Linked DNA regions of Homo sapiens: region 2 is linked to region 1. A link means that fine-mapping ties the variant in region 1 to the plasma level of a protein whose gene starts in the linked region. Region 1 holds a variant in brackets. A gene starts in the other region. All regions are shown on their reverse strands. Region 1 has its middle 9.1 kb from the start of FCGR3A. Region 2 holds the start of CD248 (CD248 molecule).

Evidence for each region. PIP is the posterior inclusion probability: the model's chance that the variant is causal. Protein levels are from antibody-based Olink assays in UK Biobank. Linkage for the fine-mapping came from a reference panel and not from the study's own genotypes, which makes the PIPs less certain.
Region 2: it holds the start of CD248, and the variant in region 1 is fine-mapped to the plasma level of the CD248 protein (UK Biobank, PIP 0.97).

The regions. Positions count from the first base shown.
Region 1 is chr1:161,551,492-161,566,282 of GRCh38, reverse strand. No RefSeq gene overlaps it. Among named protein-coding and RNA genes, the nearest start is that of FCGR3A, 9.1 kb to the right of the region's middle. The variant A/T (reference allele first, on the strand shown) is at 6,882.
Region 2 is chr11:66,308,973-66,323,763 of GRCh38, reverse strand. CD248 (CD248 molecule) reads left to right here and starts at 6,720. Exons shown (of 1, transcript NM_020404.3): 1 at 6,720-9,270. The coding sequence starts at 6,737. The coding sequence ends at 9,010. RefSeq lists enhancers at 3,717-4,216, 4,217-4,718, 7,275-7,971 and silencers at 6,522-6,791, 11,314-11,563.

The DNA.
Region 1 (14,791 bases):
AGATCTGAGTGGTTTAATGCAACAAACAGCCAACTAATGGTCTAGGGGAGTGAGATTAAGAGTCCAGAGCAGGCCGGGCACAGTGGCTCACGCCTGTAATCCCAGCACTTTGGGAGGCCGAGGCGGGCGGATCACGAGGTCAGGAGATCGAGACCATCCCGGCTAAAACGGTGAAACCCCGTCTCTACTAAAAATACAAAAAATTAGCCGGGCGTAGTGGCGGGCGCCTGTAGTCCCAGCTACTTGGGAGGCTGAGGCAGGAGAATGGCGTGAACCCGGGAGGCGGAGCTTGCAGTGAGCCGAGATCCCGCCACTGCACTCCAGCCTGGGCGACAGAGGGAGACTCCGTCTCAAAAAAAAAAAAAAAAAAAAAAAAGAGTCCAGAGCAAGGAGAACCCGGGGCTGCACTTACCTTAAGCCACTTGGTCTGCTCTTCTGATTGAATGTCTCTTGACCTCAGCATGACTTCAGACAGTGGTACTCAGAAAGAAAGGCTTGATTCATTCATCCGCACTCTGGCTTTAGACCCTTAGTGAGGAGGGTGGCATTTGAAGTTGTAGTAGAAAACTAGGAGTTAGATTCTAACGCCTACGGTCTGCAACGCAAATGCGTTGGAACCTCCCCATCAGGCCTGTTTTGCCCTTTAACTGTATCAAGTGCATGTGTCTCCAGCAAGGGTAAAATTCAGTAGGGTGGGAACTTGGTCCTAAGCAAACATGCTGAAGGATGCTGGAAAATGGTCCTGGGGAAGGTTGAAGCCATCCTCCTTAGTAGCAAGTAAATACTTGACAAGAACATTTGAAGAACTGTGAATGAGGCTCTAACCAATTCAAACTTGCCTCCTTGTCACTGGAAATAGACCTGCTGCAAGGTATCAGCAAATAAGGAGTCATCTCTTTGGCTTCCAGTTAATTTTCTAAAAGCACAATTCAGCTCCAGTCTGTGTCTCTAGCTCTAGCCCAGATTTCTCCTTCCAGTTACCCAGCTGATATTGACCACTCCCCTGCTATGTCCACAGGCACCTCAAACGCAGAATATCCAAACCTGAACTTACCATCTCTCCACAACCCCTTCCAGCTAAGCTTCTTTCCATCATATTCCCCACCTCAGGGAATGGCACCTCCTAAGGCAGGAATCTGGATATCATTGTGATTCCCACATTCTCTTTCATAACCCACATCCAATTGTGCCAGTTCTCCTTGCTAAATATCTCAACCCCACCACCATTACCTTAGCCTGAGGCTATCTTCATCTGCCACCATGACTACCGCAAGAGACCAACTCATCTTTCTGCTCCCAGTCTTACTCCTCCAGCCTATTTACAAGCAGCAACCAGAGTAATTTTGTTAAAGTACAAATTATATTATGTCACTTTCCTGCTTCAAATAATTCAGTGGCTCCCCACACCCTCACGACAAAACCCAAACTCCTTAATGTGTTCTGTAAAGCACTGTGATACCAAAACCCATTTACTCCACTGCAGCTCCATCACACTGTCCTACTCTCCTCATACTCAGAATACAACAAACTCTGCTCTAGGGGAGACTCTTTGATCTCAGTATAGACATTTTCTACGCTAGAGGCCTGTTCTGGCATCCTACGATTGAAAGGTTCAAGAATATTTAGCCATTTCTATCTTTAAGGTGCTTCTGCCTTGATTTTAAGTACTAATCAGAAAGGAAAGATACATGGAAAAAAGTCAGCAATGTAAAATAAATGGTTTAAGCATTTCACATTTTTATGTCACTTATTTTATGTCTCTTTTTGTTGGGTTCTAAGGAGAGTTGTAAAGAGAGTCAAAAAGCAGGGAGCTAAAAGGCATTAGTAAGCCCCTCGAGCCAGGCAAGTTGTTAAGCAGACAGCTCCTCTCAGAATACAAGCAAATCTGTTTCATAAGGATCATAGAGTGAAACACACGAATCAAGCTATGGATACACCAGAGGATAATAGAATTGAATCTTGAGTAAATTCTCTGAAGGAAAAGAGACCAGGCGTGGTGGCTCATGCCTGTAATCCTAGCACTTCGGGAGGCGGAGGCAGGCGGATTACATGAGGTCAGAAGTTCGAGACCAGCTGGCCAACATGGTGAAACCCCGTCCCTACTGAAAATACAAAAATTAGCCGAACGTGCTCACTTGAACCCAGGAAGTGAGGCAAAGGTTGCAGCGAGCGGAGATCATGCCACTGCACTCCAGCCTGGGCAACAGAGTGAGACTCTGTCTCAAAAAAAAAAAAAAAAAAAAAACAAAAAAAGAAAGAAAGAAAAGAAAACACCTTCATAAAACTTTTAAATTTCGGAATGATACAAAACTAAAACCAACCAAAAACAAACTACTAACTGCAAACTGGAAAAAAAATGTGTAAAAATTCATGTCTCCCTGCAAAGGGGTATTTTTATTATATAAGAAATTAATGAGAAGAACATAGAGTTTTGATAAATAGGCAAAGGCAGGGATATCAATAGAGAAACCCAAAAACATTTAGTTAAACAAAAAATAAATATCCAAGAGGGCCAGACATGGTGCTAAGTGCTTTCCATCTAATAGCAATATGAAAGAGGAAATGCAACTGGTTGACAGACACATGGTAAATGTTGATTCCACACTAGTAATCAAATAAATGCAAATAAAAATTATGAGACCCCATTTCTCAGCTATGAAATTGCCCACAATTAAGAAAAAAGAACGTGATTAAATGAACTTGCATATATTTCTGAATAGGGTAGAAATTAAAACAATTGTTTTGGAAAGAGATTTGGAAAAACTATCAAAACCTTGGAAATTCATGTACTTTTGACATTGTAATTTTGCTTCTGGGAAAATGACCTTTGGAAATATCCCAAAATATACAAAAGCACTGTTACTCTTTGCAGAGCTACTGAATGATAATGAAAATTAGAAACAACCTAAAATATCCAAAATCATGCTTCAAGTAAATTGCTCTGCTGCTACATCAGCTGGAGTCTCCCTGAGCACTGAGAGAGAGGGGTATGAATGAATCAGTTAGGTGGCTTTCTGAAGCAAGTACAGAAAATTCTGCTCAAATGGCTTAAATAACAATAAATGTTTTACTATCTCACATATTAAGTTTCTTGAAGTTAGGGCAGCTCCAGAGCTGTTTAATCTACAATAATGTCATCAGTAACCCAGATTCTTCCCTCTCTTTGCTTTGCTACTCTCAGCATGTCAGCCAGTCTTCTCTGGAAGCAAGTTGGCTGCCGTAGTAGCTCCCAGCATCACATCTTTAAGCATCACCATGTCCAAAGACTGAGAAAGAACTCGTTACTTCCTGTGTCCCAGAATCCCTCTAGCAGATTATCCCTGAGGATTAATTGTCCAGAACTGTATCATATGCTTAGTCCTAAGCATGGCAAGACAATAGAACACCATAATTGGCTTAGAGCGGCAGTTCTCAAAGTGTGGTCCTTGTGCCAAGATCAGCATTACCTGGAAACTTGTTAGAAATGCACATTCTCAAGCCCCACCAGAATCAGAAACTCGGAGGGTAGAGTAGAGCTCACCAAGTTGTGTTTTTAACAAGCCCTCCAAATGGCTCTGATGTAGCTCAAATTTGAGAACCACTGGTTTAGACTAACTGAAAGTTCACACACTGAGGCTGGAAAAGGTCTAGGCTTCTCTACAGCTCATGACCACAACATTGCTAAACGAAATCAAGTTCCGTTAGCAAAGAAGAAGGGAAGAAATGGCTGTGCAGTAGGCAACTGCCCATACAGGATAAAGTTCCTGTTTTGGTGGCCAAAATGACCCAAATCTTTTTAAAAAAAAAGAAAGTCAAAGTAATACCATTTCTTCCTTTCCACACACCCTCAAATACATTTTTTAAGCATTTCTCCTCCCATTTAACGTGAAATGTGAAAGATGTTGAGTGGAGTTTGCAGTTGTTCGAGACCAGCTGGCCAACATGGTGAAACAACATGGTGTTTATGTATATGTGGAATCATTATAAAAAAGGAAGTTGCAGAATAATATGCATTATGTACTATGCTAACAATAACAACAAAAATGAAGAAAATATAAATACATATAGGTGGATGTGTGCTTATATGAATATAAGTGTATGGGGAAAGTTCTGGAAAGATATACTACAAGCTTCTAAGGGGTTACCTCTGAGGAAGGGAGTGAAATTGGGGGAGGGAGTCATTAAATCTCACTGTTACTTTTATTTTATTTACGTCCGAATTGTTTCACTTATTTGCAACAAGAACATATATAGATCACGCGTGTATTTTCAAACCAAAAAGTGCTTAAAGCCACAATAACAAAATATTGGCGAAAGGGACAAGGACTGAGTCTCTAGGGATGGTTCTGAGCTCTGCTCATACTCCCAATGATGTTGCCAACCTTTCTCTCTTCTCCAGTGGGATGGCACGGATAAAAACAGAACAACACAAAACAGTATTTCCACTTCTTTTTCAAAAACTTTTTCAAAAACTAAGTTTTCTTTTTGGTGTTACCTTGTATTGTTCTGGTAGATTCTGAAGATTTTGCACATGAGCAGAAGCATGAATTTAGTTTTTATAATTAACTTTTAACTCTTAGAAGTATAACTTGCTAGCTCTGCTAGAAAATCCTTTTGGCTCCCAAAAGCTGCCTTCATTAGGATTTTTAGAAGACAAAGGCTACTACATTCTGCAATATCTAGAAATTACCACTGGAAGGCAACATTCAGAATTAGAGAATATTTAAGATGGAAAGAGTTAGATATAATCTAGCCCGATTACCTCACTTTGCTATGAGGAAACAAGTTCAGGGAAGAGAAGTGGCTTGACAACTGACCCCTGTCAGACCGAAACCAAAACTGAGATTTCCTTCCTCCTTGGCCAGTATCCTTCCCATAACACATCGCCATCACTCTCTTTTTGAAACTTTAAAAACTTGCAAGTCTGGGAGGCATCTAAGCATGTTCTGATGTGAGATAGCACAAGGCAGGGCATTTAAAACTCACTCTTGGCTATAGCATAAAATTTTAGAAAGTTCTTGTATGTCAACAGGTCATATTATTTTAATAACCACAGCCAAAGAAAACAGGTGCAGCTTAAGGTCATCCCACAAAATCTGCTTCAATCCCATGTGCTTTTTTTCCCTTGTTGTCTGTCTATCTCTTCCTGGTTTTGTGAAAGTGTTCTCTCCTTGTCCCATGACTGCCTTTGTATGATGTATCTCGAGGTGTGTCTGTTTCCAGACCTCTCAGTAGATGCCTTGCTCTTCATGCATTTTCTATCTATTTTTAAGACACCATATTTGAAAACCTGGGTGTCTCTCTCAGTTTTTTGTGGGTTTTTGTTTTGTTTTGTTTTTTACTGTCCCAGTAACTGTGTCTTTCTGAGTTTTCTCTCACTGGTTTTCCTCTAAGTCCCATCCCATTTTGTGTCTTTATGTCTCTAACTCTGCCTGTTCTCCTCCCTTTTCTTTTATATTGACAGTTTCCTTTCCTATTTCTTTTCTTCACTTTACTAGACACATAATGGTGAATATTTTGTTTTGTTTTGTTTTGAGACGGGGTATCGCTCTGTTGCCCAGGCTGGAGTGCAGTTGCACGATCACAGTTCACTGCAACCTCCACTTCCCAGGCTCAAGTGATCCTCCCGCCTCAGCCTCCCAAGTAGCTGGGACCACAGGCATGTAGCCCCAGGCCTGGCTTATTTTGAATTTTTTTAAGAGATGGGGTTTTGCCAGGTTGCCCAGACTGGTGTTGAACTCCTGGCCTCAAGCAATGCTCCTGCCTCAGCCTCCCAATGTGCTGGGATTACAGGTATGAGCCACCATGCTGGGACCATGAATATTTTTTATTAAATAATTTTGATATCTATTGTATTTAAAGCTCAGAGCTTACTATATTTTGTTATTAATATTAAAATAAGCAAGTAGAAGCCAGGCAGTAGTGCTGGCTACTCAGGAGGCTGAGGCAGAAGGACTGCTTGAGTCCAGGAGTTTTTTAATCCAGCCTGGCTGACACAGTGAGACCTCATCTCTAAAAAAGAAAGCAAGCAGAATATTTTCTTAAAAGGCAATTATATTCCTTCTTGGCCAGGCCCAGTGGCTCACACCTGTAATCCCAGCACTTTGGGAGGCCGAGATGGGTGGATCACCTGAGGTCAGGAGTTCGAGACCAGCCTGGCCAACATGGCGAAAACCCGTGTCTACTAAAAATACAAAAATTAGCTGGGCATGGGGGCATATGCCTGTAATCCCAGCTACTTGGGAGGCTGAGACAGGAGAATCGCTTGTACCCGGGAGGCAGAGATTGCAGTGAGCCGAGATCATGCCACTGCACTCCAGCCTTGGCGACAGAGTGAGGCTTTGTCTAAAAAAAAAAAGGTATTTTTTGCCTCTCTGTTGGTACCAATTGTTAAATTCTTTGTGGACCACTGATGCTTACCAAAAAAAAAAAAAAAAAAAGTGGGGGCATCATATTTCCTCTAGTTGACATTAAGACACAGTAATTTAGCCAGAGGAGATCTTAGCAAACATACAGTCCACACTCCACTTTCTCATTTCATGATTGTAGAGACTGAGATCTAGACAATTTAATCGGTGGTCACCCTGGGTGACATAGCTAGGTCTAGAGCTCCTGGTCTCCAGGTCAGCATTTCTTTCTTCTTCATTAAATGTCAAGTTTCCTCCCCTGTTCATTATTAGCTCCTTCCAGAAAGAGAGTTTCTTATCTTTTTAGTAGGTACTCAGTAAATACCAAGGTATTCACTAGGATGCCTTTGGATGAAGGTAACAAGCCCTGACTTAAATTGGCTTAAACAGCAGGGAAATTTACTTGAAATTGTAAGAAATCTGGGTTGGTTGCGTTAGAAGCTCAGTGATGTCACCAAGACCATATTCTATCCCTCCACTCTGTCCTCCTTGGCT[A/T]TTTGGCATTGACCTCAGACTGGCTGCCTTCAAAATCTTAGGTTTTGCCAGCAGAACCTAGGACAAAATGAGCCCTTGTTCATGTACAGTGGGAGAGAGAGATCATCTCTCCCAAACATGGCACTCCCCTCTACCAGATTGGCCCTATTTAGGACAAAGTTCCGTCTTCTCCCACTTAACCAATAAAAGCCAGGGGAATGCTACACCCTGAGTGGCTTAGATCAGTCAAGATCCACCTCTGCATATGAGGGTGATTCCTGAATAGAATCAAGGTTATATTAGAAGGGAGGGAGAGGGATGGATATCAGGCTAGTACATCATATTCTATTTGTTGAGTTAACTGAGTCATAGCAATTGTTGAGTTGGAAAAAACTCAGAACCTACTGTGGATTCAAGTTCAAGAAATCATTCTTTCCTACATACAACAGCATTGCTCTGTAGCCCTGAGCTAAGAGAGCATCACGAAATACAGTCTTCTTGCTGTTTATAATCGTAAGCAAACTCTTGGACCTGGGAGGGGATGAATGGATAATGTCTGTCTGACTTGCTTCTTTCTAGTTAGTACCAACTACCTCCCTTCTTCCTGTGATTGTTCTTAGAATAGGATAAAAAATCTTCCCTTCCCTAGATCTTACAGTCTCCCCTTCCCCCAGGCCTTTCTATTTTTCAGGATTTTACTCTAATCACACCACCGAAGAATCAAGAAATCTTTAAAGTGTATTAGAGTAGCTAGTTGTGGCAGCACTAAAACACGGCTGCAAATTCTTTGACACTCTCTCCATCAAGAAATGAGGCCTACATCCTCTACCCTTGAATCTGGGTGGGCTTATAACTTCTGGTGATTAGACTACAGCAGAAAGAGAAGCTGTATAGCTTCCTAAATGTTATAAAGTCTTAAGGATAGCTGCCAGCAAGACCTTAGGACAAAATGAGCCCTTGTTCACGTCCAGTGGGAGAGAGAGAGAGAGACCCTCTCTCCCAAATATGGCAATCCTCTCTACCTATAACATTTACATAAATGTTATAGGTTAAACGTTCCACAACAAACTAAGTACTATTTAACATCAAGAGGAAAAAGAGACAGGAGAAAGGGTTAATAAGCCTGTTGATGAGGATCTAAGAAGAACAAAGGAGGCCTGGTTTGGGCCTGGCTACCCGTTGGTCTTGCAAAGAAGAGTCTGAGGTGGCAGAGCCTTCAGTGGCAGATGCCAAATTATCATCATGAGTGACTGCAAGACAGTGTCAGCTAAGATAGCCATTTCAAGCTGCTGAAGGCCTTCTCTTTTAGTCGTGGAGTCCTGTGATAAGAACTGAAAGTTGGAAGAGTGTGCTTGTCTGTGGCCTTATTTGGTCGGATGCAGTCTTTATCATTTTTAATTTGTTTCTTAGAACATTTTATCTTGTTGGCCAAATGCCCTACGAAATATAAAATGGAGTCTTTTTCTAAGATGGAGTTAGTTATGTCAAGGGTCCTTTATACAGTCTTCATCCTTTTTCCTGGCATACAACTCCTAAAATCCTTAGAATCTCCAAAGTGATGTCTTTTGGTGTGCTAATGAGGTAACTGATGGCTGGCAGCTCTTAGGTAGCTTCATAACAGGGGCTGGGCACAAGAAAGATCATGGCAAGGTCAGAGGATTGGGGCTTTCAGCTCCACCCTCCAAACTCCCTCTGGGAAGTGGAGAGGGGCTGAAGGTTGAATTGATCACCAATAGCCAATGACTTAATTAATCATTCCTAAGTAATAAAGCTCCCATAAAAACCCAAAAGGACAGGGTTTGGAGATCCTCCAGAGAGCCGAACACAGAGAGGTTCTTGGAGGGTAGTGCACCAGAGGGCATGGAAGCTCCAAGCCCCTTCCCACAGGTCTTGCCCTATGTACTCTTTACTTGTGTCCTTTGTAATATTCTTTATCACAAACTGATAAATGTAAATGTTTCCCTGAGTACTGAGAGCCACTCTAGCAAATTAATTGAACCCAAGATGCAGGTGGTGGGAACCCCCATTTATAACTGGTTGGTCAAAAGCACAGGTAAAACAACCTGGGGCTTCATCCTGGAGTATCAGAAGTGTCTTGTGAGACTGAGCCCTTCACTTGTGTCACCTGATGCTATTTCCAGTTAGATAGTGTTGGAATTCAATTGAATTTGAGCAGAAGTCCCAATCCCCAGACCTGTAGTTGTCAGTGACCTCTTAGGAACTGGGCTGCACAGCAGGAAGTGAGGGGCAGGTGGGGAGCAAAGCTTTATCTGTATTTACAGTAGATCCCCATGGCTCACATCACCGCCTGAGCTCCTCCTCCTATCAGATCAGCTGTGGCATTAAATTATCACAGGAGCATGAACCCTATTGTGAAGTACGCATGCAAGGGATCTAGGTTGCATTCTCCTTATGAGAATCTAATGCCTGATGACCTGGCATTGTCTCCCATCACCCTAGATGGGACTGTCTAGTTGCAAGAAAACAAGCTCGGGGCTCCCCCTGATTCTACATTATGGTAAGTTGTATAATTACTTCATTAAATATTACACTGTAATAATAATAGAAATGAAGTGCACAATAAATGTAATGCACTTGAATCATCCTGAAACCATCCCCCACCCCCCTACCCCTGTCCGAGGAAAAATTGTCTTCCATGAAGCCAATCCCTGGTGCCAAAAATTTTGGAGACCACTGGATTAGAAGACACCCAGTTGGTGCCCACTGCTGAATTGCTTGCTTGCTTGCTTGCTTGCTTGCCAGTGGAGAGAAATCCCCACATATCTGTTGTCAGAAATGTGTTGTGAGAGCATAGTGGGAGGAACTGAGTTTGTTTTTTCTACAGTTACAGCAATAGGTAACTGGAATTCAACTGCTGGACTATACCAAAGACTGCCAGGCCAGCCTACCTTTCTCACAGCCTTCTTGACTACCTGTCTTGGATGAGCTCACTGAAAGCCCACATACCTTCATTCTAGCATTTCCTCAGTCTGGTTGAGCTGCTTTGGAGGTAATACAGGTTGTAGGACTTCCCTCCACTCCTGCTCAGGACCGTTTTCAGCAGGCTAATCAGACAGCAGTTGGCACTGAGTACAACTGGAGAAATGTTATCAGCACTGAAGACTGCTCCAGCTACAAATGCACAGCGACCCACCTCAGCTGGACCTTTGGCATTGCTTGGCAATCCTTACAACTGTTTGGAATTCTTGGTAATTCTTGTACATACAAACAGTCGGCTCCTTCTCCCATGCACCACAATGGCCATTCTCAACTCTGGTGTTCTCAAACCCCCACCACAACTGTTACCCACTCTTTCTCGACAAGTGTCTTTGACTCCTCCTTAACCAAGAAAATCAGGACCAGCAGATGTGGATGGTCACTCAACATCTGAAAATGGATTTGCATATGTACCCCCTCAGCTCCTGCCTTCAGCTCAGAGCGAGAGGTAATCCGTATCCAGTTCACAGCCAACTCCCTGTCCATGTCCCATTCCCATCTCCTCAGGACCCACACTTGCTTCTCTAGGTGTTCCGTCCCTGTTAGGCATCCAACTTCTCCCACCCTGCTGGCTTCTTCCCAAAGACCTATAACCAAGCTCGTATCTTTCACTTAAAAGAAAACAAAAACTCCCATTCTCTTGTAACTACCTTTGCAGAATTGTGTCTGAAACAGTGAGAGAGATCTAACTTAATTGACTCCATCTTGCTTCTAACCTCCAAGCTGTCTTTCCTCATTCTTGGGCATAGGCTGAACTAACTTTGGGAGAAACTTAGTTTATAGTTTGTGGTTTAAAGCAAAGATGATAACAGCCCTTTCCCAGGGCAGACCTCCTTTTTTTCTGAAGACTAGATTGTCTTTGTAGGACTAACATTAGCCACAAGATTGGAAATTATGGTTTAGGAATCATGCAGGTGGAGGCTACAAGATTCTGACCCTTCCTAAGCACTGATCCTAAGATCGGTGCTTGAGATATTTTGCAGACCCTGCACTTGATGGATCACCTGGCAACACCCAGATCAATAAACTGGCTCATCTGATCTTGTGGTGCCCACCCAGGAACTGACTCAGAACAAGAAGACAGCTTCAACTTCCTGTGATTTCATCCCTGACCAATCAACACTCCTGGCTCACTGGCTTCCCCTCCACCAACCAAGTTGTCCTTAAAAACTCTGCTCCCCGAATGCTCTGGAAGACTGATTTGAGTAATAATAAAACTCCAGTCTCTGGCTCAGTCAGCTCTGCATGAATTACTCTTTCTCTATTGCAATTCCCCTGTCTTGATGAATCAGCTCTGTCTAGTTACCATCCTCCACTTCTCCTTTCTTATTGTGTCACTTAGGGCTCTGGGTTATAAACAACTTTATCAGAATCCAGATCTTTTAAGTAGAGGAAAAAGATTTATTGGATGGAAACTAGAGGAGGTGAGCCCATCCCACTGCTGTGATGACTGGGACCCAACCATCTCCCTCTCCTAGAAGTGAATCTCCCTTATGAGTAAACAAGTGTCACTTATTCAGGATTCATCTCAGAAGAGACTCTAATGGGCCAAACCTCAGTTATATGCCTGTCCTCTGTCTGCCTGTATCAGTTAGCTAGCACTTTTATAACAAAGTACCACAGACTGGGTGGCTTAAACAACAAAAATGTATTTTCTTACAGTTCTTGAGGCTGCAAGTCCAAGATCAAGGTGTTGACAGGGTTGGTTTCTTTTAATTTTTTTTTTAAAAATTTTATTTTAGATTTAGGGGTATGCGTGCAGGTTTGCTACATAGGTAAACTCCTATCACGGGGGTTTGTTGCACACATTATTTCATCACCCATGTACTAAGCCTAGTTACTCAATAGTTATTTTTTCCGATCCTCTCCCTCTTCCTACCCTCCACCCTCAAGTAGGCCCCAGTGTGTCTGTTGTTCTTCCTTTGAGTCCATAGGGTTGGTTTCTTCTGAGGCCTCTCTCCTTGGCTTGTAGGTGTCCATCTTCTCCCTGTATGGGTCTGTGTCCCAACTAACAAGGACATCAGTCATATTGGACTAGAGCCCACCTAATGATTTTATTTTAACTTAATTACCTCTTTAAAGGCTCTATATCCACATATAGTCACATCCTGAGGTATAGGGGGTTCCACATGTGGACTTCAACATATGAACTGGGAGAGACAAAATTTAGTCCTTAATAGTGCCCCAAAGTGGGGAAAAGGAAGATCTGGACCCTCGGGTTTCCATAGTAGAAAGCAATCACTGCTTTCTATTAAGTACTCACAGTGGGGCTTCTCCAGAAAGAATGATATGCTAATAAGAAGGGGAGGAGGAAGTGATCCTGGACAGCCAGATGATATGTGCACTATTCCTTCATAATGGAGATTCTGAAGAGGAGAAGCACTTGACTAAACACTTTTTCATTCCTACTCCGTCTTCAACCAAAAGCTGTCAAACTTCTGTTTCTCAGCCCCAGCCCCTGAAATTGCTCAGGAAAAGGTCATTAATAGTTCCTTGATTGCCATATTTCAATCAAACTCTTGTTTGAATTCTTTTCTACAACATTAATACTGTTACTGTTGACTACTCCTTCCTTGAAGATCTGTTCCCACTAAACTTCCTTGTTCCCTCCTCTTCAGCCCCTCCTATACAAACTCCTTTGTCAGCTATTTTTCCTGTGCACGCTTCAAAAATGTTTGCATGTCAAGTTTCTGTCATTGACTCTCTCCTCTTCTCCTCTCCCTCTCAATCCCTCCTTCCTTTCCCTCACTGTTTCCCTTTAATTCTCTCTCAATACTCTTACAGTTTCAGAGATCTTATCCTTACTTTATCTTAACCTAGGATCTCTGGATGGATTCAAATAGAGCTTCTTAAATTAAAGGAAACATAATGTGTATATTTGCATCCTTTCTTGGGAGAAGGCCCAAAGGTTTTTATCAGAGGTTTGAAACCTCAACCGTGTTGGTGCCTCCTAAATTGTGTCTTTTGTCAAGACCTGTCTTCTGAGTTCCAGGGCCATGTGTCTCACTGCCTACTGGAAATCTTCACCTGAAACCTTCACAGCTACCTCAAACTCAATAACATCAAAAGCTGAAATCATTGTCTCTCCCTCCCAAAGCCTGCTCATCTTCCCATTTTTCTTTTGTCCATGAAAGCTACTGCCATCCTCCTTATCACCCAAATTAGAAATCCGAGCATCACCCAGACCTCTCCCCCTTCATCACCCCTCAGCCAATCACTCACCAAGTCTTGTCCATCCTTCCTTCCTAACTTCTCTCCTGGATGCTTCCATTGCATATCCACTTTTTAAACAGAGTGGCTCTTGTCTCAACTAGACTGTTGAAATAATCTTCCAACTTTTCCCTCCACCTTCCATCTCTCTCCCCTCTAACTCATTCCTTGGACTGCTGTCAGAGTACTTTTCATAAAATATAAAACAGATCTTGTGATTCCCCAGTCTAAAGCCTTTTTATTAGTTCCCATTACCTTTTAGAATAAAATATGTACTGTTCATCCTGACACACAAAACTCTTCGTGATAAATACTAATTGAGTGCCTAGTATGTGCCTGCCCTTGTGCTAAATGTTGAGGGTACAGGGGTAAACAAGGTGAACAGCTTCCCTGCTCTCCAAGACCTTTCAGTCCACAAATGCAATGAGTTTACAGAGGAGAAGCACAAGCTCCTAAAGGAGTTGGGGTGGGGTTGGGGGTCAGAACCTAATTTAGAAAATTGAGGAAGGTCTCAACCTCCCATCTTGCATTTACAATAGTAATCAGCAGGTGTGGTACCAAATATGGAACCAACAATTTTATCTGCATTATCTCATTTAAGCCATGAGTGCCATTATTGTTAGCCTCACTTTACAGATAAGGAAACTGAGGGCTAGAAGGTTAAATAAGTGGCAGAGTTGGGATTTCCTCCAGATTCCTGTGAGACCCAGACATCTTAATCCTTTTGGAACCTGTGCTTCTCCTTTGTAGTACTCACTACACTTGTGGAACTACATCCAACTACACTTGTGGAACTACAGCCAGCTCTGCAAACATGACAGTCTACTTCACTCCAAGTCTTTGCTCATGCTGCTCCTCTTGCCTGGAATGCCTATTTCTCTCAAAAATCTTCCTGCTGAATATTTTGCGATCTAATTAAAGTGTTCTCTCTTCCATGTACACTCCTCCCTCAGATAGAATTAGCCACTGTCTTCTTTGTGCATACACAGCATTTCATAAATACTGTCACAGTCCCTCTAGCACTTCAAATACTTATCTGATGTTCTCCCCCTAAGAAACTGTAAGTCCTAGAGGATGACAATCAACTGAATTCCATAGTCAGAAACTTCTGCTGTGCCTGGCCTTCCAATGAGAAAAGGAGAGAAGAGGAGGGGAAGGAAGAAAAAGGGAAGGAGAAGAAAGAAAAGCAAACATGAAGATAAACACTTCAATATATGATATCCCAAGACCATCTACCCTTTTGTAAAAATTTTGCTTTTTTTTTTTCCCCCCCAAGAGTCAGGGTCTCACTCTGTCGCCCAGGCTAGAGTGCAGTGCCATGAACATAACTCACTGTAGCCTCTAACTCCGGGGCTCAAGCAATCCTCCTGCCTCAGCCTCCTGGGTAGCTGGGACTACAGGCATGCACCACCACATCTGGCTATTATTATTATTACTATATTAGTAGAGATGGGGTCTTTCTATGTTGCCTAGGCTGGTCTCAAATTCCTGGCCTCAAGCAATTCTTCCACCTCACATTGGCCTTCCAAAGTGCTGGGATTACAATAAGCCACCATAGGCCAAAATTTTGCATTTTATCCATTACTGTAAAATTAACCCTTAGAAATCCAACAACACTCAATTTGAGAATTGTTCAACAACCACTTAATGAAAACCCCCTGAAAGCTTCCCATCCTGTTGCAGTCCCTTTCTCTCCTCCTGTGCTCTCTCCTCTTCTTCCTATC
Region 2 (14,791 bases), not on the chromosome of region 1:
TACCCACTCATACATCTGTGCATACATGCATTCATCCATCTACCCATCTACTCATGTATCCACCCACCCACACACCCATGCATTCACCCATCCATGCATCCATCCACCCACACACCCACCCCAGATCAACATCCATGTATCCACCCAGCCAGCCACCCCACTCATTCATTATCCATGCATGCATTCATCCATCCGTCCATCAGTCCATCCACTCATGCATGCCTCCATCCATCCATGCATCCATCCATCCATATATCCACCCACCCATCCTCCAAGCATTTATTGTATCAATTAGCATCTTCTCTCTGCTAGGCTGAAAGACTAGCAGGAAGAACAAGACCCCAACCAACCCCTCTCCAGCCCCTTAAACCCAGATCCCTGATGCTATGCCCGCTACATCCTCCAGCCTCACTAGATAAAACAGTTCTTGGGCAGCCTCAACCTTACCTCACACAACCTTGGGGAGGCTGCTGAGTGCTGGGCACCCTCCCGAACTGAGCAACCAGATACCTCTCCAAGTCTCATTCCCAATCCACCAGACGCTTAGCCTCACAGAGGCCAGAGGTGCCCCTTCCTGCCTTCTCCATCCCTCATGCTGGCTCAGGCCTCCTTCCACTTGCAAGTAGGCCCAGCCAAGACATCTGGAATTTGGCCTTTGACCTTTCTTCTCCTGCTTTGCCTGCTTGCCCCCCAACCCCTCACCCCCACAGAGGCTGGACTCCTGACCTCTGATCCCATCCACCCACTTGTCAGACGGCCTGCAGCCATCCGTCCCCTTAGACGCCCTAGTACTGGCCATTGCCCGACTCATGACTGGGCTCACCACACCCTTGGACCAGGCTCAGGACTGCCCCTAAGGAGCCTCTGGAGGCTGCCTCCCCCAGCCCGGCCCGCCCTGCCGCCGGGCTCTCCAGCCAGCTCCCTCCCCTTTCCCAGACTATTGCAACAGCCTCCTAACTGGTCCCTGGCCTCCAAGCCCCCTCCACCCACCACACACAAGCCACAGAGATCTCTCATCATGCCTCTCTTCCCCATGGCCTCCAGAAGGGAGCCCCGGACTTTTAGGGACAACTTCAACACCTTTCAAGACAGGCCCCTACTCCTTTTCTCCACTCCTTACTGTCCCTAACAATGTCCCTCACTTCAGCCTGGTGGAGTCCTTTGTATTCTCCAAACCCATCTTGAGCTCTGCCACCTCAGTAGTCTTGCCCAGGCTGTGCCTTCTTCCTGGTATGCCTTCCTCCCATCTTGTTTTTGTTTTTTCGAGATGGAGTCTCTGTTACCCAGGCTGGACTGCAGGGGGTGATCTCGGCTCACTGCAGCCTCCGCCTCCAGGTTCAAGCGATTCTTGTGCTTCAGTCTCCCGAGTAGCTGGGACCACAGGTACCCGCCAACACGCCGGGCTAATTTTTGTATTTTTAATAGAGACGAGGTTCCACCATATTGGCCAGGCTGGTCTCGAACTCCGGGCCTCATGTGATCGGCCCACCTTGGCCTCCCAAAGTGCTGGGATTACAGGCGTGAGCCACTGTGCCCTGCCCTGTCTTTGGTTTTTGACTTGAGGCCTAACTCTCAGAACTTTGCTCAAATGATGCCTGAGGGTGCTACAGCAAAAAGAGAACTGGAATAAGAATAAGGAGACCTTGGCTCTAGTCCCATTCCTGCCACCGACACTCTTTGAAACTCCTTGTACCTCAGTTTCCCCATCTGCAAAAAGGCCTGCCGATTGCCAGAGGTGGTCTGACTTCATGTGGAAGGCCAGTGAGTGTTGGGGACAAGTGAGCTTTGGCTGCAGGAAGAATCCCAGCTCCCCACTGCATCTCCCTGAGCCAGGTTCATCACTTCTTTGAAGCTCATTCACGAGGCATCGTGAATGAGTCAGGAGCTTTCTAGGCTTGGGGATAGAGCAGGGAACCAAATAACAACCCTGCTCTCATGGAGCTCACAGTCTCCAAGGGCAGAAGTTCTCCCCTGGGGGTGATGCTGCTTCCAGGGAACATGACATTTGGCAATGTCTGGAGACATTTTGGATGGTCCAACTGGAGGGATGCCACTGGCATCTACATAGGAGCCAGGAACACTGCTAAACACCTTGCAATGCACCACGCAGTCCCTACAACAAGTAATTACCGAGGCCTGAATACCAGTAACTCCAAGGTTGAGAAACACTGGCTAGGGGAGATTTGGGCCATAAGCAATAAGCAAATCCACAAGTAAATTTCTTTTTCTTTCTTCCTTCCTTCCTTCCTTCCTTCCTCTCTCTCTTTCCTTTCCTTCCTTCCTTCCTTCCTCCCTCCCTCCCTTCTTCCTTTCCCTTCCTTTCCCTCCCATCCCCACCCCTCCCTTCCTCTCCTTTCCTTCTTCCTTCCCCTTCTTTCTTCTCCTTTCCTTCCTTCCTTCTCTCTTTCTCTCTTTCTTTTTAAAAAATTTTTTTTATTATTATTATACTTTAAGTTTTAAGATACACATGCACAACGTGCAGGTTTGTTACATATGTATACATTTGCCATGTTGGTGTGCTGCACCCATTAACTTGTCATTTAGCATTAGGTATATCTCCTAATGCTATCCCTCCCCCATCCCCCACCCTACAACAGTCACCGGTGTGTGATGTTCCCCTTCCTGTGTCCACGTGTTCTCATTGTTCAATTCTCACCTATGAGTGAGAACATGCGGTGTTTGGTTTTTTTTGTCCTTGCGATAGTTTGCTGAGAATGATGGCTTCCAGCTTCATCTATGTCCCTACAAAGGACATGAACTCATCATTTTTTATGGCTGCGTAGTATTCCATGGTGTATATGTGCCACATTTTCTTAATACAGTCTATCATTGTTGGACATTTGGGTTGGTTCCAAGCCTTTGCTATTGTGAATAGTGCCGCAATAAACATACGTGTGCATGTGTCTTTATAGCAGCATGATTTATAATCCTTTGGGTATATATCCAGTAATGGGATGGCTGGGCCAAATGGTATTTCTAGTTCTAGATCCCTGAGGAATCACCACACTGACTTCCACAATGGTTGAACTAGTTTACAGTCCCACCAACAGTGTAAAAGTGTTCTTACTTCTCCACATCCTCTCCAGCACCTGTTGTTTCTTGACTTTTTAATGATCGCCATTCTAACTGGTGTGAGATGGTATCTCATTGTGGTTTTGATTTGCATTTCTCTGATGGCCAGTGATGATGAGCATTTTTTCATGTGTTTTTTTTGGCTGCATAATTGTCTTCTTTTGAGAACTGTCTGTTCATATCCTTCGCCCACTTTTTGATAGGGTTGTTTGCTTTTTCTTGTAAATTTGTTTGAGTTCATTGTAGATTCTGGATATTAGCCCTTTGTCAGATGAGTAGGTTGCAAAAACTTTCTCCCATTCTGTAGGTTGCCTGTTCACTTTGATGGTGGTTTCTTTTGCTGTACAGAAGCTCTTTAGTTTAATTAGATCCCATTTGTCAATTTTGGCTCTTGTTGCCATTGCTTTTGGTGTTTTAGACATCAAGTCCTTGCCCATGCCTATGTCCTGAATGGTATTGCCTAGGTTTTCTTCTAGAGTTTTTATGGTTTTAGGTCTAACATGTAAGTCTTTTCTCTTTCTTTCTTTCGTTCGTTCTCTCTTTCTGCCGAGACCAGCTCGGTCGGGGAGACCCTAACCCAGCGGTGCTAGAGGAATTAAAGACACACACACAGAAATATAGAGGTGTGAAGTGAGAAACCAGGGGTCTCACAGCCTTCAGAGCTGAGAGCCCCGAACAGAGATTTACCCACGTATTTATTAACAGCAAGCCAGTCATTAGCATTGTTTCTATAGATATTAAATTAACTAAAAGTATCCCTTATGGGAAACGAAGGGATGGGCTGAATTAAAGGAATAGGTTGGGCTAGTTAACTGCAGCAGGAGCATGTCCTTAAGGCACAGATCACTCATGCTATTGTTTGTGGCTTAAGAATGCCTTTAAGCGGTTTTCCGCCCTGGGCGGGGCCAGGTGTTCCTTGCTCTCATTCTGGTAAACCCACAGCCTTCCAGTGTGGGCGTTATGGCCATCATGAACATGTCACAGTGCTGCAGAGATTTTGTTTATGGCCAGTTTTGGGGCCAGTTTATGGCCAAATTTTGGGGGGCTTGTTCCCAACATCTTTCCTTCTTTTCTTTTTCTCTCCCGCTCGCCTCTCCCCTCCCCTCCCCTCCTCTCCTCTCCTCTTTTCTTTTCCACAGTCTTGCTCTGTCGCCCAGGCTGGAGTGTGCAGTGGCGCAATCTTGGCTCACTGCAACCTCCACCTCCCAGGTTCAAATGATTCTCCTGCCTCAGCCTCCCGAGTAGCTGGGATTACAGGTGCACCACCACGTCCAACTAATTTCACAAGTAAATATATTTAATGTCAGATAGTGATAAGTGCAGAGCGAGAAAATGCAGGAAGATCCAGTGGTCAAGGAGCCCCAGGGGGCGGTGTGGGGTGGGGTGAGATGGTCAAGGACTCTGGTACTTGAGCTGAGCCCTGGAGAAGGTAAAGAAGCAGAGCATTTTTATATTGGAGGAAGAGCATTCCAGGCAGCAGGAACAGCCAAGACCAAGGCTGTGAGGCAGAGTGTCTGGAGCATTTAAGGAACAGCAATGAGGCCAGAGTTTGGAGGCAGATGACATAGACCAGGAGGCCATGGCAAGGACTGTGGCCCTTCCTCTAAGCGAGATGGGGGGCTCAGAGGGTTCTGAATGGAGAAGTGATCAGATCTGACTTGGATTTTGAAAGGATCCCTCTGGCAGGATGGAGAGGGCAAGAGAGACACCACGGGAGAGGCTGTTGGGGAAATCTAGATTGGCGTTGCTAGCCACCTGGGCCGGGGGTGGGTGGCAAAGAAGGTGTCCAGGAGTGGTCAGATTCTGGATCTCTTTTGAAAGTGAAGCCAACAGGATTTGCTGAGAGACTGGATGTGGGCTGTGGGAGAAAGAGAGGAGTCAAGCATGACCTCAAGGTTTGGGGCCTGAGCCAACAGAAGGATGAACTCCTCCATCTTGACTTTTGTCTCCTGAGAAGGGGAGTCATTCTGTGTGCTTCACATGTATAGACCTTGTAAGAAGGAACTTCCAGGCATATGGCAAGAACTTCCTAAGCCCTGGTTCTCGAGGGGCTGGCTGGGTCTGCAGGGCCAGCCTAGGCACTGTAAGGTGGTTTGCAAAAACGCACCCTGGTCTCCACCCACCACATATGCTCAGAAGACAGGAACATTTGCTTCAGGCTCCACAGCTGACAAAGCACATTTGCAAACACTGAGCGCTGTGACGCAATATCTCAGCCCTGCTGAGCTAAAAATCCTGGACTCATTGCCCTCATGTTGCAACTGAGAAAAAAGGAGACCCAGAGAGGGCCAGTGACTCCCCTGCAGTCACAAAGTCGATCCATCTGTGGCAGAGGGGGAAGCTGCATCAGGGCAGTTTACTGAAGGGCGGAACCTCTCCCCCACCTCCCCACACTGTTTCTAACTTCTGCTAAGAGTGCAGCGGGTGTGCATGGGTTAATCCGCCAGCCAGCTCCCCAGAGGCCATCCTGGATGATGGGCTCAGTGCACATGCCTCCAGAGGCCTCCAGGAAGGGCGGGAAGAGGACCCTGGCCAGGCCGAAACAGCAGGCCCCGGGGGCAGGGAGGGCTCCACACACGTGATGCCTGTGTCACATATACACATATATGTCACTGTGTGCCCCATGCCCATACATGGCCTTGCATGGGTCCCCTCACAGCCTTCCACATCCTGCGTGCAGCCCAGCCCCCACCCAGCCCCCTAAACCACGCACCCTGCCTTCCTGACGCAGGAGCCCAGAGAGGCATTTCCTGTTTAGGGGCTGCCTCCTCCCCCTCTAAGCCCAGGTTCCCAGGGCCCCAGGCTGAGCTGGGGTGAGGGGAGGGCAGCCCCTGGCCCCCTCACTCCCCCAACACCCCCACACGCTGGCCCAGCTGGAACCAGAAAGCTTGAGTATAGGGGGAGAGGCTGACGCAGGGGCTCAGTAAATAAATGAGAGGCTGAGGATGCCTGTGCCTGGGTGACCAAGCTGTTTCCATTCAGGCCGAATCGGAGGTCTTCATATGTCAGGCCATGTAGAATGCCACACCATTTTTGTATGTGCACCTAGGGTCTCAGCATGTCAGAATGTGTGTACGTGTGGCAAGGGAGTCATCTGCAAGCCAGCATAGGTCCACGGTGAGGTGAAGGGACAAACAGCTTGGCAGAGAGTGCACTCTTGCATGGGGTTGGGGGTGGGGGAGGCGCATGCGCGCGTCTGTGGGGCAAGAAAGGAGTGGGCATGAGGGTGTTCCCGTGCATGGCGAGCAGCTGGGCTGAGACTGCTCCCGGGTGTGATGGGGCTGCTGTGTCCAGATTTGGGTCTCTGAGTCTCTGGGAAGCGACCTCACCCCACAGCCCCGAGCCCCAACTTGAGGGTCACAGAGCTCGGCAGGCAGGCTTTTCCCACCCCCTGACTCTCAGCCCCATGGGGCCTGGGGCAGCCGTCAACTGCGCCTTCTCCCCTCCTCCGCCCCCAACCTTAGAGCCCCCCACCCCACTGCTTCCTGCTCTAGCGGCCCCCGGGGAAGAGGGAGCAGGGAGCTGGCAGCCGCCCCAGCCCACTCCTTACAAGGCCTGAGCCCGGCCCCAGGCCCGCCCCCGGCCCGCCCGCAGGAGGCCCCAGGCCCTCCCCCTGTCAAGAGCTGCCGCCAGCCCGGGGCCGGACCAGTCCGGGGGCATCGCGATGCTGCTGCGCCTGTTGCTGGCCTGGGCGGCCGCAGGGCCCACACTGGGCCAGGACCCCTGGGCTGCTGAGCCCCGTGCCGCCTGCGGCCCCAGCAGCTGCTACGCTCTCTTCCCACGGCGCCGCACCTTCCTGGAGGCCTGGCGGGCCTGCCGCGAGCTGGGGGGCGACCTGGCCACTCCTCGGACCCCCGAGGAGGCCCAGCGTGTGGACAGCCTGGTGGGTGCGGGCCCAGCCAGCCGGCTGCTGTGGATCGGGCTGCAGCGGCAGGCCCGGCAATGCCAGCTGCAGCGCCCACTGCGCGGCTTCACGTGGACCACAGGGGACCAGGACACGGCTTTCACCAACTGGGCCCAGCCAGCCTCTGGAGGCCCCTGCCCGGCCCAGCGCTGTGTGGCCCTGGAGGCAAGTGGCGAGCACCGCTGGCTGGAGGGCTCGTGCACGCTGGCTGTCGACGGCTACCTGTGCCAGTTTGGCTTCGAGGGCGCCTGCCCGGCGCTGCAAGATGAGGCGGGCCAGGCCGGCCCAGCCGTGTATACCACGCCCTTCCACCTGGTCTCCACAGAGTTTGAGTGGCTGCCCTTCGGCTCTGTGGCCGCTGTGCAGTGCCAGGCTGGCAGGGGAGCCTCTCTGCTCTGCGTGAAGCAGCCTGAGGGAGGTGTGGGCTGGTCACGGGCTGGGCCCCTGTGCCTGGGGACTGGCTGCAGCCCTGACAACGGGGGCTGCGAACACGAATGTGTGGAGGAGGTGGATGGTCACGTGTCCTGCCGCTGCACTGAGGGCTTCCGGCTGGCAGCAGACGGGCGCAGTTGCGAGGACCCCTGTGCCCAGGCTCCGTGCGAGCAGCAGTGTGAGCCCGGTGGGCCACAAGGCTACAGCTGCCACTGTCGCCTGGGTTTCCGGCCAGCGGAGGATGATCCGCACCGCTGTGTGGACACAGATGAGTGCCAGATTGCCGGTGTGTGCCAGCAGATGTGTGTCAACTACGTTGGTGGCTTCGAGTGTTATTGTAGCGAGGGACATGAGCTGGAGGCTGATGGCATCAGCTGCAGCCCTGCAGGGGCCATGGGTGCCCAGGCTTCCCAGGACCTCGGAGATGAGTTGCTGGATGACGGGGAGGATGAGGAAGATGAAGACGAGGCCTGGAAGGCCTTCAACGGTGGCTGGACGGAGATGCCTGGGATCCTGTGGATGGAGCCTACGCAGCCGCCTGACTTTGCCCTGGCCTATAGACCGAGCTTCCCAGAGGACAGAGAGCCACAGATACCCTACCCGGAGCCCACCTGGCCACCCCCGCTCAGTGCCCCCAGGGTCCCCTACCACTCCTCAGTGCTCTCCGTCACCCGGCCTGTGGTGGTCTCTGCCACGCATCCCACACTGCCTTCTGCCCACCAGCCTCCTGTGATCCCTGCCACACACCCAGCTTTGTCCCGTGACCACCAGATCCCCGTGATCGCAGCCAACTATCCAGATCTGCCTTCTGCCTACCAACCCGGTATTCTCTCTGTCTCTCATTCAGCACAGCCTCCTGCCCACCAGCCCCCTATGATCTCAACCAAATATCCGGAGCTCTTCCCTGCCCACCAGTCCCCCATGTTTCCAGACACCCGGGTCGCTGGCACCCAGACCACCACTCATTTGCCTGGAATCCCACCTAACCATGCCCCTCTGGTCACCACCCTCGGTGCCCAGCTACCCCCTCAAGCCCCAGATGCCCTTGTCCTCAGAACCCAGGCCACCCAGCTTCCCATTATCCCAACTGCCCAGCCCTCTCTGACCACCACCTCCAGGTCCCCTGTGTCTCCTGCCCATCAAATCTCTGTGCCTGCTGCCACCCAGCCCGCAGCCCTCCCCACCCTCCTGCCCTCTCAGAGCCCCACTAACCAGACCTCACCCATCAGCCCTACACATCCCCATTCCAAAGCCCCCCAAATCCCAAGGGAAGATGGCCCCAGTCCCAAGTTGGCCCTGTGGCTGCCCTCACCAGCTCCCACAGCAGCCCCAACAGCCCTGGGGGAGGCTGGTCTTGCCGAGCACAGCCAGAGGGATGACCGGTGGCTGCTGGTGGCACTCCTGGTGCCAACGTGTGTCTTTTTGGTGGTCCTGCTTGCACTGGGCATCGTGTACTGCACCCGCTGTGGCCCCCATGCACCCAACAAGCGCATCACTGACTGCTATCGCTGGGTCATCCATGCTGGGAGCAAGAGCCCAACAGAACCCATGCCCCCCAGGGGCAGCCTCACAGGGGTGCAGACCTGCAGAACCAGCGTGTGATGGGGTGCAGACCCCCCTCATGGAGTATGGGGCGCTGGACACATGGCCGGGGCTGCACCAGGGACCCATGGGGGCTGCCCAGCTGGACAGATGGCTTCCTGCTCCCCAGGCCCAGCCAGGGTCCTCTCTCAACCACTAGACTTGGCTCTCAGGAACTCTGCTTCCTGGCCCAGCGCTCGTGACCAAGGATACACCAAAGCCCTTAAGACCTCAGGGGGCGGGTGCTGGGGTCTTCTCCAATAAATGGGGTGTCAACCTTACCCAAGGCTTCTGACCCCCACTGGTGCTTAAGGGAGGTTCTGGGAGGACTCAGCAAAAAGGAGGGGATCTTCCTTCAGTTTGTCTGAGTCCTCAAAGAGATAAGGTAAGATCCCTTTAAGGGAGGGTATGCCTCAGAGATTCTCAGGGAAGCAGGAGCCCAGAGAGGGCAGAGCCTTGCCCAAGGTCACACAGTTGAGCCCAGCAGTGGGAGGTTTGGCATGGGGAGAATTTCATATTTATTCCTTATTTTACCAAAGCTCCAAGAAGGTGGGGCTGAATCTGGGGGACGGTTGTGGAATTAGGGCATCTGCTGAACCGGACTGGGGTTTAGGGGTCAAAGTAGGCTCTGGGGCTGGTGATTCAGAGGAGTGAAGGAGGGGTCTAGTGGGTGAGTTGCTCCTTTCTTCAGACACTTCCCTTCCCATCCCTGTAAGCTTCGCGGAAGTTGGGGGCTGGGGCTCAGGGTAACTCAAGGGGACTGCCAACCCCTGGTTTGTGGGTGCTCTTGGAGGCATTCCTCCGCTTGCTCCGGGGAGGAGGCTGGGATGGGAAAGGCCGGGAACCTGGGAGAGATCCCATGCTAACTGCTTGGACAGCCGCAGGAGCAAGGCCTCCTTTTGCCAGGGCCGCACGTTGCTCTTGTCCATGTTGGCTGGGGGTGGTGGGGGACAGACAGAGCTCAGCAGACCTGAGCTTGAGCGAGGGCTCCGGCTGCTCAGGACTGAAGTGTCCCAGGAACTGGAGGGCCTGGTCAAAGATCACAGCCTGGTGGGAGTGACCTCCCTCATTTCGTGCTCACTGCCTTGGGGGGCGGGGGTGAGACCTGGGGAGGGGAGGCGCCAGTTCCCACCGCCTCTGTAATTTTTCAGTTACAGCCTCTTGGGGGCCTCTAATTAGGACGGGGCAGAGCCGCCACGACCACCCGGGCAGGCGAGGAGGAGTGGCCCAGCGCCCCCTTCGGGCCTGGACCTGAGCTGGAAGGCTGAGCTGGGCCCCAGGGAACCAGGAAAGGAGGGGCCGGAGCTGGGGATGAACCAGGGGGTCGCGGAGGGGGCGGAGGGAACGCTACGCACCGCCCCCGGTCCCCGCTCTCACGTTCCCCTAACTCAAACCAGACGTCCCCGCCAGATCCTGCACAGCTTTAACCTCGGAGACGCCGTCGGGCAGGTTTGCTGGATGCCAATGAGGGTTGCGAGGCGGCCCAGACGGCTGAGTCTGGGAAGGAGGTGAGGAAGCCTGGGGAGCGACAAGGCCTGCAGAGACGGGATGGTCTGGAGTCCCCTCCGTGACCTCGGGTAGGGATCTAGAGCGCCTCGAGGGCAGGAAACAGTTAAATACACTGCAGTCGGAGGCGGGGGATGGGAGTGGGGAAGGGGGCCCAGAGCCGGCTCTTTGTCATCTGGTAATGAGCACCAGATGCGGAGCTGCGTGCGGGCCTAAACAGACGGCCTCCCAGGGCAGAGCCCCGGCCTGCGCCCAGCCCGGGCTCAGCCCACTTACTCGCAGGCCCCGCCTCATTCGGGCGCGGCGGCGAACTGCATACTCCAGCGGTATCAGCCCGGACCTGGGAGCTACGAGCCACGCCTACTCGCTGCAGAACAGAAGAGAGCCCCCGGGAGCTCTCCAGAGGCCCCGCCCACAAAGCCACAAGCCCCGCCCCTGCCAACTCAAAGATTCCAGCAGCGATTGTGCCCGCCCCCTGCCCTCTTGGCCCCGCCCAGTCCCCCGCCCACAACCTACAAGCCCCACCTCCTCCGCTCGGCGCGCGCAGATTGGCGGAACTATTAGTCTCGGCTTCTAGGAGGTATGAACTTCGCCCCGAGTTTACACATTCTCTTCACGCGGCGCTACAGGCCCCGCCCAACACAACTGCAAGCTTCGCCTCACAGAGCCCTGGACACTGCAGGGAATCCCTCAGAGGTCTTAACTCTGTTGGGGGATGATGTAAACTCCGCCCTCCAGGGAAACGTGTGAAGTTCCCCTCAACCTCCTCTTCAGGCTCCGTCCCCAGCTACAAGCTCCGCCCCCTCTCAAGCTCACAAAAGTGGAAGAACTGCGCCCTCGTAGGACTGTCACACCTCACACATCGAGCGGAGGTAGCGGTTCACCTACACGGAGCCCCGCCCCCGGGGCCGCCCACGAAAGATGCAAGCCACGCCCCTGGGGGCCCTGGAGTCCCGCCCACCCAGAGCGCCCTGGCTGCGGCGTAGCGCACAAATACGGCTCTGCGAAGAGCGCTACCGAGCGAGCCTCTTATCGCACGCCCCGCCCACACTCAGGCTCACCCTCTTGGCGCAAGCACCGCCCACTCCACCCCTGGGTCCCTTACCACCTTCGCGATATGCCCAGATCCACCAGTCCTCCGAACCCCTCATCTCTCACCACGATGCCCTTGAACCTGGCCCTGGAGCCCTCTTCTTCCTCCACCTACGGTTTCCGTTTGTCCAGATTTCGGGTTCTCTGGGCGAGCCCGGAGACTGGGCCCGGACAGCCGGGCAGATGGCGTCGATGGGCCTTTGGCGCCACCTGGCCTCGGCCCCACGGACTTACAGCCACCGCGAGGCCTCGGTAGGGCCTCTCTCTCAAAGCGTACTAATTGCTCAGTAAATAGAAATAGCTGCTTAATTCGTTAAATGTTAGTGTTACTTAAATATCTGCCGACTCCCCCCACGGGACAGCCCATCCTTTCGCAGATGCCTTTCGTCGTATGTGGAAATTCGTCCCTAAGGGAGCTTCGCACTGGCCCTCGAGCCACCCTATGAGCTGAGCGCCCCTGACAATCTCTAAAGTGGCTGGCTGGTCGAACTCTTGCTGTCTCTCCCCGACAAATCCTTTCGCCTGGAGGGCGAAAGCATCGCCTCTCATCTGGCGGCCTAGAATTCCTAGGACCAGGTTTCCCCCGCCCCCACCTAGTGCTCCAAAGGCTAGACACCTTCCCTGGGGGCTGTGTTGCGAAGGGGTGGGTTTGGGCGGGGAAGCCCTCAATTAGGAGCTGAAGGTCGTAGTTTTTAGGGACAGTGTCTCAAGGGAGACCCTATCTCAGCTCTCATCTCTACCTCTGAAAATAACAGCCTGGAGGGCAGGAGACGCTGAAGTTCAGGGCTAGGAACCCAGTAAAATATTTTTCAAACATTAGTGGGACAGACAGGGAGCAACCCTTGAGGAGGAAGGGAGTTGACACCACTGAGCTCCAGTTGGGCCCTTTGCTTCCTGCCTTAGCTGCCAACCTTGCCCTTACCCACCTCCGGGCAAATCAGGCCTGGGGAGAGGGATACTTTCCAGACCAGGTTCCAATGCTCGTGCACTAGCCATTACAAATGTAAATAGGGTTTAGCGCTAAATACTGACGATAATAATAGTGAATGCTTGAAGCACTTCTGTTTTGTTTTTGTTTTTGTTTTTTGTTTTTGTTTTTGTTTTTTCGAGACGGAGTTTCTCTCTTGTTGCTCAGGCTGGAGTGCAATAGCGCCATCTCGGCTCACTGCAACCTCCGCCTCCCAGGTTCAAGCGATTCTCCTGCCGCAGCCTCCCAAGTAGCTGGGATTACAGGCACCCACAACCACGCCCGGCTAATTTTTGTATTTTTAATACAGACGGGGTTTCACTATGTTGGTCAGGCTGGTTTCGAACTCTTCGCCTCAGGTGATCCACCCACCTCAGCCTCCCGAAGTGCTGGGATTACAGGCATGAGCCACCATGCCCAGCCTTGAAGCACTTCTTACATGCCCGGTCCTTTTTTAAGGGCTTTACTTGGCTTAATCCATGTAAGATTCATAACAACCTCCAAGAAGTAAGTGCCGTTCTTACCACAATTTACAGAGTAGGAAGCTGAAGGCACTTGCCTAACTGCATTAAGCCATCTGCCCTAGTTGACCAACTAGTAAGTGGGGGTTTGAACCCAGGCAGATCCTGTGATCTTTACCCCCTACAGCAAAGCCAGTCCATATGTGATAGCCAAGTCTCTAATCAGAAAATGCCCACACCTGGCCAGACGCGGTGACTCACGCCTGTAATCCCAGCACTTCGGGAGGCTGAGGCGTGGGGAATGACTTAAGGTCAGGAGTTCGAGGCCAGCCTGGCCAACATGGCGAAACCATGTCTCTACTAAAAATACAAAAATTAGCCAGGCATGGTGAGGGTACCTGTAATCCCAGCTACTCAGGAGGCTGAGGCAGGAGAATCGCTTGAACCCAGAAGGTGGAGGTTGCAGTGAGCTGCACTCCAGCCTGGGTGACGAGTGAAACTCTGTTTAAAAAAAGAAAAGAAAAGAAAATGCCCACACCCTGGGAAACTCACTTTTAAGGGTGAGGCTGCAAGACGCAGACTCTCAGAGAGGCTGACGGCACTGAGATTGACCAGAGAGATTGAAGCCTTCTTCCCCCAAGGAGAGTTTGTCGTCTGTGGCTTTGGCAGGTGATGCTGGTAAATAAAGCATTTGCTGGGATCGTGGGATCTGGACCATGTGCCCAGGCGAGGTGCGGCCTTGGGGCATCTGTTGGCTCATGTGTTAGCCTGGTTTCAGTGAGTCCAGTGATTTTTCTGGGAGGCCAACTAGCACAGTGGTAAGAGCTAGCACTCTGCATCAGCCTTGTTTGCATGCCAGCTCCACTGCTTAATGGCTGGGGGAGCTCAGGGACATTCCTTTATTGCTCTATGTTTGCCTCCTCATTTGAAAAGCAGAGATACTATAGAGGAGGAAGGATTCTATATGAGGAAAACTAAGGTTTCCTGCTTGAAGCCTATGAGTATCTTCAGGATGGTGCAGGAAGCTGCTATCAAAGACACCATCTGCTTTAGCTGGCTCTGGGGATCCCTGAAGACAGAGTCCAGAAACTGATCACGGGGAGAGCTGAATCAGCAGAAACTGACGTCTGAAGCCCACCACATCCCTGAGGTAGAGGCTTCGAACACTCTCCTTCACTTGTCTTGGGTGTCTCAGTAATTTTTTCCTGACACCATTGGCCAAAAAATACCTAACAATTTCATTTCATAAATAGGTCCAACAACATAGTAATTTTTTCATGACACTATCGAACTGCTGTTAGGTATTTTTTGGCCTATGAATGTCATGAAAGAATTACTCCACAGTTCCATTTCATAATGCAGTGGCTCACGCCTGCAATTTGGGAGGCCGAGACGGGCAGATCACTTGAGCTCAGAAGTTCGAGACCAGTCCAGGCAACATGGCAAAGTCCTGTCTCTAAAAACAAACAAACAAAAAATACAAAAATACTAGCGGAGTGTGGTGGCATGTATCTGTGGTTCTAACTACTCAGGAGGCTGAGGTGGGAGGATCACATGAGCCCAGGAAGTGGAGGTTGTAGTGAGTCGAGATCATGCCTCTGCATTCCAGCCTGGGTAACAGAGAGAGAGAGAGAGAGACCCTGCTTTAAAAAAAAAAAAAAAAAGTTAGGTCCAAACAACATAAGAAATACTTGTTGGCGGCCTGGCGCGGTGGCTCACGCCTATAATCCCAGCACTTTGGGAGGCTGAGGCAGGCGGAACACGAGGTCAAGAGAT